2 separate regions of the Homo sapiens genome follow, and region 1 is reported to be linked to region 2. The links are microRNA targets in miRTarBase. Many come from high-throughput screens and were not tested one by one. Region 2 holds a microRNA gene; the other region holds the end of a gene's coding sequence.

The links. Region 2 holds the annotated microRNA hsa-miR-27a-3p (UUCACAGUGGCUAAGUUCCGC, at 2,474-2,494, opposite strand). A microRNA usually pairs through its seed, bases 2 to 8, with sites in the 3' UTR of a target mRNA and lowers its output. Matches are read on the target gene's strand: a 7mer-m8 pairs with bases 2 to 8, a 7mer-A1 pairs with bases 2 to 7 and ends in A, and an 8mer does both.
Region 1: the mRNA of NECAP1 is a reported target of hsa-miR-27a-3p. Seed matches in the 3' UTR shown: 7mer-m8 at 3,567-3,573 and 7mer-A1 at 3,455-3,461.

Annotation. Positions count from the first base shown.
Region 1 is chr12:8,095,733-8,100,732 of GRCh38, reverse strand. NECAP1 (NECAP endocytosis associated 1) reads right to left here. Exons shown (of 8, transcript NM_015509.4): 8 at 2,852-4,691. The coding sequence ends at 4,643. Among named protein-coding and RNA genes, the nearest start is that of NECAP1, 16 kb to the right of the region's middle.
Region 2 is chr19:13,833,974-13,839,134 of GRCh38, forward strand. MIR27A (microRNA 27a) reads right to left here and starts at 2,544; the gene lies at 2,467-2,544. MIR23AHG (miR-23a/27a/24-2 cluster host gene) reads right to left here. Exons shown (of 1, transcript NR_036515.2): 1 at 543-5,161. MIR24-2 (microRNA 24-2) reads right to left here and starts at 2,386; the gene lies at 2,314-2,386. MIR23A (microRNA 23a) reads right to left here and starts at 2,686; the gene lies at 2,614-2,686. RefSeq lists enhancers at 4,619-4,728, 4,759-4,978.

The sequences.
Region 1 (5,000 bases), not on the chromosome of region 2:
TCTTGATGAATTTACCTCTTTGGGCCAGGCACAATGGCTCACACCTGTAATCCCAGCACTTTGGGAGGCTGAGGTGGGTGGATCACTTGAGGTCTGTAATTCAAGACCAGCCTGGCCAACACGGTGAAAACCCATCTCTACTAAAAATACAAAAATCAGCCGGGCGTGGTGGTACATGCCTGTAGTCCCAGCTTCAGGAGGCTGAGGCAGGAGAATCACTTGAACCCAGGAGGCAGAGGTTGCAGTGAGCTGAGATCATACCACTGCACTCCAGCCTGGGCAAGAGGGAGATTCTGTCTCAAAGAAAAAAAAAAAAGAATTTACCTCTTCAACGTTTATGTAATGACCGTGTCTCTTGCTCTTGTTATAGCTTTTGACTTAAAGTCTATTTTGTCTGAAATACATACAGTATTCCCCCCTTATCCTGAGGGAATACATTCCAAGATCCCCCTTGGATGCCTGAAACCACAGATGGTACTGAACCCTATATACATTATGTTTTCTCCTATATATACACCTATGATAAAGTTAAATTTATAAATTAGGCACAGCAAGAGATTAACAATAAGTAATAATAAAATAGAATAAATATAACAATATGCCAGAGTCACCACTCTTGTGCTTTGGGGCCACTATTAAGTAAAATAAGGGTTAACTGAATTTGTACAAGCATTGCAATACCACAACAATCTGATAACTGAGAGGACTATCAAGTGTCAAATAGGTAGGTAATGTATATAGAATGGACACATTGGACAAAAGGATGATTCACATCCAGGGCAGGGCAAAGGAATATGGTGTGAGATTTCATCACACTACTCAACTGTGTGCCACTATTTTTTTTTTTTTTTTTTTTGAGACGGAGTCTCGCTCTGTCGCCCAGGCTGGAGTGCAGTGGCGCGATCTCGGCTCACTGCAAGCTCCGCCTCCCAGCTTCACGCCATTCTGCCTCAGCCTTCCGAATAGCTGGGACTACAGGTGCCCGCCACCACGCCCGGCTAATTTTTTCTATTTTTTAGTAGAGACGGGGTTTCACCATGTTAGCCAGGATGGTCTCGATCTCCTGACCTCATGATCCACCCGCCTCGGACTCCCAAAGTGCTGGGATTACAGGGGTGAGCCACCGCGCCCGGCCCCCAGTGTGCCACTTTTAAACTTATGAATAATTTTTGTAATTTTCCAGTTAGTATTTTCAAAGCACAGTTGACTGCAGGTAACTGAAAGCACAGAAAACAAAACCTCAGATAAGGAGGGACTATATAGTAATATAGCTACCCCTGCCCTCTTTTGGTTTCCATTTGCATTAAATATCTGTCTCCATGCCTAACTTTCAGTCTCTATGTGTCCTTAAAGGTGAAGTGATGCTCTTGTAGGCAGGATACAGTTGAGTCTTGTTTTTTTAATTCATTTAGCCACTCTGTCTTTTGATTGGAGAATGTAATCCATTTTGCATTCAAAATAATCATTAATAGGTAAGGACTTACTGCTGCCATTTTTCAAATTGTTTTTTGATTGTTTTGTGGGCCCTTTGTTCCTTTCTTCCTCTCTTGCTCTATTCCTTTGTTATTTGATGATTTTCTATAGTCCTTTGATTGTTCTCTTTATCTTTTGTGTATCTACTATAGTTTTTGCTTTGTGGTTACCATGAGGTTTACATAACACTTTTTAACAGTTTATTTTAAGCTGATAATTTAAATCACATACAAAAACTCTGCACTTTAACTTTCCCTCCCATATATATTTTTTGTTTTGTTTGAGACAGGGTCTTACTATGTTGGCCAGGTTCGTCTTGAACTCCTGGTCTCAAGCAATACTCCCACCTCAGCCTCCCAAAGTGCTAGGATTACAGGCGTGAGCCACCACACCCAGCCACATTTTGTTTTTGATACCAATTTTCATATTTTCATACTGTGTATCCACTAACAAATTACTGTAGCTATAGTTTTATGGTTTTGGGGGGGTTTTGTTTGTTTTTTTTGGAGATGGAGTCTCACTGTCACCCAGGCTGGAGTGCAGTGGTGTAATCTTAGCCCACTGCAACCTCTGCCTCCCAGGTTCAAGTGATTCTCCTGCCTCAGCCTCCAGAGTAGCTGGGATTACAGGCACCCACCACTACGCCCAGCTAATTTTTGTATTTGTAGTAGAGACAGGGTTTCACCATGTTGGCCAGGCTGGTCTCGAACTCCTGACTTCTGGTGATCCACCCGCCTCAGCCTCCCAAAGTGCTAGCATTATAGGTATGAGCCACCATGCCCAGCCTTGATTCATGTTTTTTGTTTTTTCTTTTGAGAGAGTCTCATTTTATCATCCAGGCTAGAGTACCATGGTACAATCACAACTCACTGCAGCCTCGTCCTCCCAGGCTCAAGTGACCCTCCCACCTCGGCCTCCCAAGTAGCTAGGACTACAGGCACATGCTGCCATGCCCAGCTAATTTTTAGATTTTTTGTAGAGATAAGATCTCGCTATACTGCCCAGGCTGGTCTTGAACTGGCTTCAACCAATCTTCCCACCTTAGCCTCTCAAAGTGCTGGAATTACAGGAGTAAACCACCAACCACATCTAGCTAATTTATCTCCTGTGGCAATCACTGAACAAGAACTCCCAAGACCTTTTCTGGTTTCCAAAGTCTGTGGTTCTGACCTTAGTTATTTCTCTTATACTGATCCCTTTCATTTCTGCTGATTACAGTTAAGATATAAGAGGTGGCCTAGATCATGAAGATAATTTGAAGCAAATTAAATTAACTGTACCAGAAAATAAATAATGAATATTCATTGATTACACAGAGTGCTCTGTCATTTTAGAACCATGAACACAGAGGTCTAGTCTCAACTTCTTAAAAGCCTTATTTCTTAATAAAGAGTGATATAAATATCCTTTATTAACTACTGGTCCACTTATATTTGGTCAATTAAATTTAAAAGGTAATCAAATAAGCAAATTAAAAGATAAAAGAGACACTTTTTTCATATTTTTAATTACCATTATTGCACCAATACAGCATACACTTTATATACATATATCTTAAACATTTTCCATTTTTCAGGAATTCAAATACATAATATATTATCATCTCAAGAATACAAAGAACACAACATGGAGGAAGATTGAGAAAATAGGTTCCCAGTATTTAGTCACTAGTGATTCCACAGACTTTCCTTTTAGTGTTTTCTATTGGAATTTTAACATGTCCTGCTATGGCTCTGCAAGAATAGAGCTGCCTGGAAAAGGAGGCAATGAAAAGAAAATGGACCCAAAGTCAGAAAAAGTGAAGAAGAGAATCCAGGAAAGTAATATATTTTGAAACTAAACATAAGGACTCCCTTCGGCCAGAGTGTACATACCCAATAGGTGCAAAAAGGAAGCAATGATATCTTCCCATTTCATCCTCAAAATTGCTCGTTTAGAAACAAAATAGAAAGTACCCATTCACCTAAGAAGCAGAACTTTTTTCACAGCATTGTAATAGGAATGGCAGGGCAGAGGGAAAGGAAAGTAGTGGGAGAACAACTTGCTTTTAAGATACCCTGGGTGACAGGTATCAAAGCCTTGGGCAAAACCTGTCACAGTAAAGCTGTGACTCTCCAACTTCCTTCACAAATGACAATATACATAATAGCAGCTTTCTATTAAAGAACTACATGAACTGAAAAGAAATGTTTATGGAAAGGGGCCAGATACCCAGGCAGCAAGGCAATGAGGATACTAAACAAGAGTTAAGTGCTTTCAACCTCTCTGCTCTACAGATCAGGTTAAAAACTCTAAACCCTTCAACTTTAGGTCAAAGAACAGGGCAAATACAAATTAATGCCATGCTTCAAATGCAGCAACCAGATGGAGCTGCAAGAAATTAAACACTCCTATAGACTATCACTTGGAAAGCACAGCCTCTTGAACCTCCTTCATTACAGATACACCCACTGATCAAAGATGTTAACACAATTCAAACTCAACAAACAGAAAAGAGTAGTGGAGGTGCCACCAACACAACCCTCTTATCATAGAAAGAGACATGTAAACACACAAGAGGGTGATGGAGCTGCACCCAGCACTGGATGTTCACTGAGCACAATAAGCCTGAAGGAGACTACACAGCAGAGACCCAGGAAATAGGTCTTTCTCCATATCTACCCCTATCAAAATTCTGAATTTGTAAACACTGAGGTCAGCCTGTCCATTTTTAGTCCTGGGTTAGTGGAGAAGGAAGTTGCAAGGTTTTTGACTCCCCTGAAATTGCTAAATAGGGCTTCACAAAGAGGCACACAAGGGTCATGAGATGATTTTGAAATAAGTTAAAGAAATTAAAAGATGAGACAAATTTTACAGATGTTAGAGGTCATTCCCCCTCAAACAGACGCTGGCCTTTTAAGCCCTGCATAGTCAGCCAAAACTATGATAAGATCCACTAGTCCCCTACCTTGGTACTACGCAGGAGATAACAGATACTTTCTTGGCTGTACAAGTAACAACACAGGGGAGTGACATAAACCAGCTTGAATGTGATGGAGAAGCTATGAAAAAGATTGTCCAGTCATTCTGGTTCTGGGGAGGAAATGGGTTCCTAACTTCCCTCACAGATTGGTGCCCTCAAGGTCATTTTTATTCCTCAAGTCTGTCCTTAATGTCCTGCCAATGCCATTCAGAACTGGACCCAGTTGGATGGCTGTGGTGCCTGGTTTGGAACAGAGCTGCAAGACAGGAGAACAGAGAAAGCCAGAGACATAATATTAGGATAACAACTCCATTCTTTACTTAATAGTTTCTAAGAAATCACTGCCTAGAATTTCCAAAACCACACTTCATGGCAATTCTACTTACAAAGGCCTGAAATATCCCACTCAAACCTCATCCTACAGCTTTTTTGTCCCCCCATTCCCAGCACTACTATATTTCCTTCACTAGAACTCTTCCAAAAGACTCTATGTGACCTGCATATCCATTGCTTCTCCAGATCAAAGATTTCAATTGACTGTACATATCTCCTACACCCTGATTGA
Region 2 (5,161 bases):
CCACGAATGTTCCCATGTTCCTGGGGCGTCACGCAGGTCCCAGCCACATCCAAATGTCCCCCCTTAAGAACTGGGGTTTCCTTCATGTCACATCCCTCAAACCCAAGTTCCCCTCCAGCATTCTCAGATACCAGGCACCCCAAATCTTCCCCTGAGGCCTGAGTAATCCCGTAGGTCCAAGTTGCCCCCAAATGTCACTAGCTCAAGACCCTCAGATCCTGGTTATCGCCACATGTCACCCCTCAGGCTCAGCGTTTCCCTCAGGGTCACCCCACCACCACCACTTCAGATCAGCTTCCATCCTCCCTTGATCAGCGATGTGAAAATCTTTCCACTCTAGGGTTTCCCTCATGGTCACCCCACGATCCAGGACACCCCCAAGGTCACCTTTCCAAGCACAGGATACCCTGCTGCACAGAGCAGGTGGGGCAGGGATGGGCAGGCAGGAGCCCGGAGTGCCAGGATGGTAAATTCAGGCCAATCAAAAGCTGAAACTCCAGCGATGGGAGGCAGGAGTGAATCACAGACCAGACCTTCAGGAATGAAGTCAGGGCAACTTTTATTTACTTGAACAACAGACATGACACACAGCACGATCTCTCCTCTCCATCCCATCCCAAGCTTCTGTCCACGACTACCCAGGGTGGGGAAAAAGGCAATGGCCCAGCCCCGATGACCTGGGGGACTTCAGTGTGCCTCCTCAGTCCCACCCAGAAAAAAGCCTCCTCCCATCTGATTTCAAGATAGTGGAGAAAAGCCAGGCACGGTGGCTCACACCTGAGCCACCTGTAATTCCGGCGCATTGGGAGACTAAGGTGGGAGGATGGCTTGTGGCCAGGAGTTCGAGAACAGCCTGGGCAACATAGTGAGACCTGCCCCCCCATCTCTACAAAAATTAAAATTAAAAAAATTAGCCAGGTGTGGTGGCGCATACCTGTAGTCCCAGCTCTACTGGGGAGGCTAAGGCAGGAGGATCACTTGTGCCCAGGAATTCAAGGTTGCAATGAGCCATGATCACACCAGCCTGGCCAAGATGGTGAAACCCCGTCTCTACTAAAAATACAAAGATTAGCCGGGCATGGTGGTGGGTGCCTGTAAGCCCAGCTACTCAGGAGGCTGAGGCAGGAGAATCGCTTGAACCCAGGAGGCAGAGGTTGCAGTGAGCCAAGATCACACCACTGCACTTCAGCCTGGGCAACAGAGTGAGACTCCGTCTCAAAAACAAACAATAAAAGGCCAGGCACGGTGGCTCACAGCTGTAATCCCAGCACTTTGGGAGGCTAAGACGAGCAGATTGCTTGAGGTCAGGAGTTCAAGACCAGTCTGGGTAACATGGCGAAACCCCGTCTCTACAAAACATAAAAAAAAATTGGCCGGGCGCAGTGGCTCATGCCTGTAATCCCAACACTTTGGGTGGCTGAGGCGGGCAGATCACCTGAGGTCAAGAGTTCGAGACCAGCCTGGCCAACATGGCGAAACTCGGTCTCTACTAAAAATACAAAAATTAGCCAGGTGCGGTGGTGTGCACCTGTAATCCCAGCTACTTGGGAGGCTGAGGCAGGAGAATCGTGTGAACTGGGGAGGTGGAGGTTGCAGTGAGCCGAGATCGAGCCATTGCACTCCAGCCCGGGTGACAGTGCGAGACTCCATCTCAAAAAAAAAAAAACAAAAAAAAAAAAACAGAGTCCTAACTCTTCCCTGCCCTGAGAACCCCCTCAAGGCAGGGAGGATCAGCTATTCCCAGCGCCTCAGGACTAAGCACACCTGCTTGTGTCCCTTCTGGGTCCACAAGGAACTTGTTCCATGCCCCACATGTGGGGCGGGTGTCACTGCTCCTCCCGGCAAGTTAGAAAGCTGCAGGGCCCAGCAAGAAGGGGCCAGGTCAGGTCAACCCAGCCTGATACCGGAAGCCAGGAGTTGGCATTTAACGGTCTGGAGGCCCAAGGCAGCTTCCTCTTGGGTAACTGGCTGCTAGGAAGGTGCGGGCCGGGCCAGTGCCCCTGCCAGGCTTGGGAGAGGAGGGGCCAAGCCTCCAGGCCCGGAAAGGACACAGCTGGCTTCCCTTTTAATGGAAGGGCCACCCACTCACCCACCTATCTATGCTGGCACCACAGCCCAGCCTGAGCTGTGGCCATGCAGGGGTCCCCAGTTGCAGAGTTGGGGATCAGGGCCTGCAGCACACATTTGGGCCCAGCCAACCCCACCCACCACATCCCTCCTCCAGACACAGGTCTGATTCTGAGTCCTCATCTCTGCTCCAAGCATCAGCCCACCCAGGGAAGGCAGGGGCTGCAGGCTCCAAGGGGGCTTGACCCCTGTTCCTGCTGAACTGAGCCAGTGTACACAAACCAACTGTGTTTCAGCTCAGTAGGCACGGGAGGCAGAGCCCAGGGAGGCCAGGCAGCAGGATGGCAGGCAGACAGGCGGCAGCAGGGGACAGGCGGCAAGGCCAGAGGAGGTGAGGGCCTGGGGGGCGGAACTTAGCCACTGTGAACACGACTTGGTGTGGACCCTGCTCACAAGCAGCTAAGCCCTGCTCCTCAGGCCAGGCACAGGCTTCGGGGCCTCTCTGCCACCCCGTCCCCGGGCAGCATCCTCGGTGGCAGAGCTCAGGGTCGGTTGGAAATCCCTGGCAATGTGATTTGTGACAGGAAGCAAATCCCATCCCCAGGAACCCCAGCCGGCCGTGGCACAGGGGTGAGGGGGGCACCGGGCGGGGCCAGAGGCTGGCACCTGGAGGGGAGAAAGAGAGAGAGAGCAAAGGAGGTAATGAGATTTGGGGACACCTCCCCTCCAGGTCCCCAGATGCTTCCTTTGATCACAGGGAAGCTCTTTTCTCATATGCAGGAGCCACCACACGGGGAGCTGGAGCCTAGCTGTGCCCTCCGTTCCAGCCCCAGGACTGGAGAGGCAGAGATACCTAGAGGGCCCATGCGGGACAAGGAGGCTACAGCAACTTGCATGGCCAAGCTCCCCCCTCATTGAGCCCTGGGCAGGCCAAATGGGGCCATGGGGAGAGGAAGCCAAGGGGGGCCAGGCAGGCGGGTGAGGAAGTGATCTCACCCCAGCTGGCGCCACTTCCTAGAAGCCTGGAGGGCAGGAGGAAACCACCAGGGCCTCCCCCCCCGTGGCCCGGTCTCCTCAGTGGCCAGGGCTTAGCCCACACCCACCAGGGCGGATGCCGGCAGCAAGGCACCCCCCTCTCTTTCTAGACACGCACCCCCCGCCCCCCAGAGCACAGGATCCAAGCTCCAAGATACAGGCCTCTCCACCCAAACAGCCCAAGGTTCAAATCCTTGCTCCACAGTTTCCCAAAGACTCTCCAAAGCTTCAGTTTCCCCATCTGTAAAATGGAGCCAAGAGCCTCTTTTGCATAGCCCAGTGAGATGTCACCGAGTATGTATGTCACTCAGTAAGTGCCCAGCACCAGGGCAAGATACAGGATTTTCAGGACCCGGTGCAAAATGAACACGTGGTCCTCTAGTTCGAAAACTAAGAATTTCAGGCCAAGCATGGCGGCTCACGCCTGTAATCCCAGCACTTTGGGAGGCCGAGGCAGGAGAGTCACCTGAGGCCAGGAGTTCAAGACCAGCCTGCGCAATACGACAATACCCCATCTCTACAAAAAAAAAAAATATTTTTTCTTTTTTGAGACAGGGTCTCACTCTGTCGCCACGGCTAGAGTGCAGGGGTGCAATCACAGCTCACTGCAGCCTCAGCCTCCCAGGTTCAAGTGATCCTCCCACCTTAGCCTCCGGGGTAGCTGGGACTACAGCTATGCACCACCATGCCCGGCTAATTTTTTCTTTTTCTTTTCTTTTTTTTTTTTTTTGAGACAGAGTCTCGCCCTGTCGCCCAGGCTGGAGTGCAATGGCGTGATCTCGGTTCACTGCAACCTCCACCTCCAGAGTTCAAGCAATTCTCCTGCTTCAGCCTCCCGAGTAGCTGGGATTACAGGTGCCCGCCACCACGCCCAGTTAAGTTTTGTATTTTTAGTAGAGACGGGGTTTCACCATGTTGGCCAGGCTGGTCTCGACCTCCTGACCTCAGGTGATCCGCCCACCTCGGCTTTCCAAAGTGCTGGGATTACAGGCGTGAGCCACCACACCTGGCCCTAATTTTTGTAGAGATGGGGTTTTGCCATGTTGCCCAGACTGGTCTCCAACTCCTGGGCTCAAGCAATCCGCCTGCCTCAGCCTCCCAAAGTGCTGGGCTTACAGGCCTGAGCCACAGTGTCTGGCCCACAAAAAATTCACTAAAAAATCAGCCAGGAGTGGTGGTACACATCTGTAGCCCCAGCTACTCAGGCGGCTGAGGTGGGAGGACTGCTTGAGCCCAGGAGTTTGAGGCTGCCGTGATCTATGACCATGCCACTGAACTCCAGCCTAAGTGACAGAGCAAGACCCTATCTCTAAAATAAACAAAAACAAGTTTAAAAAAAGAAAATAATTTCAGGCTGAGCGCGGTGGCTCATCCCTATAATCCCGGCACTTCGGGAGGCCAAGACAGGAAGATCGCTTGGGGCCAGGAGTTCGAGACCAGCCTGGGCAATACAAGACAAAAAAATTAATAATAATAAAAAAAAATTCATGACCCCAGCAGTGCAACATTAAACTAACCTCCAGGTCCCTCCAAGCAGGGCTGCCGTGAGACTGCCCGTTTCACAAATGCATGAAGCCAGCCCTAAGTCTTTAGTGAGTGGAGCTTCTTTTGATAAGAGCCCAACACCTGGCTAGCAGACTCCAGTTTTGGAGCCCAAGTCTGCCCAGATTTGAAAGCCCCAGCTCTGCAGCTTCTGAGCTGGGTGACTCTGGGCAAGTCACTCAACCTCTCTGGGCCTCAGCTTCCCCATCTGCAAAACAGGGATAATAAGTATGGACTTCATAAGTCATGGTGAGGACCCCATGAGTGATAAACATGATCACGACAGAGCTGCTGCTGTCTTTGCCAAGGCAAAGGATAACGGAAACGTGGGTGTCTCACACCAGGACCCCAGTGTCCGCCCGATGTGGTGGCGCTCACCACTTCGAGACAGGCGGCGAGTGATGTCCTGTTTTGTCCCCTCCCTATACACACATACACACATACCAGCCACTCTTTCCCATCAGGCCCCAGCCCAGCCCTGTCCCCTTAGGGTCTGGAGGCGCCAACTGGGAGCAGG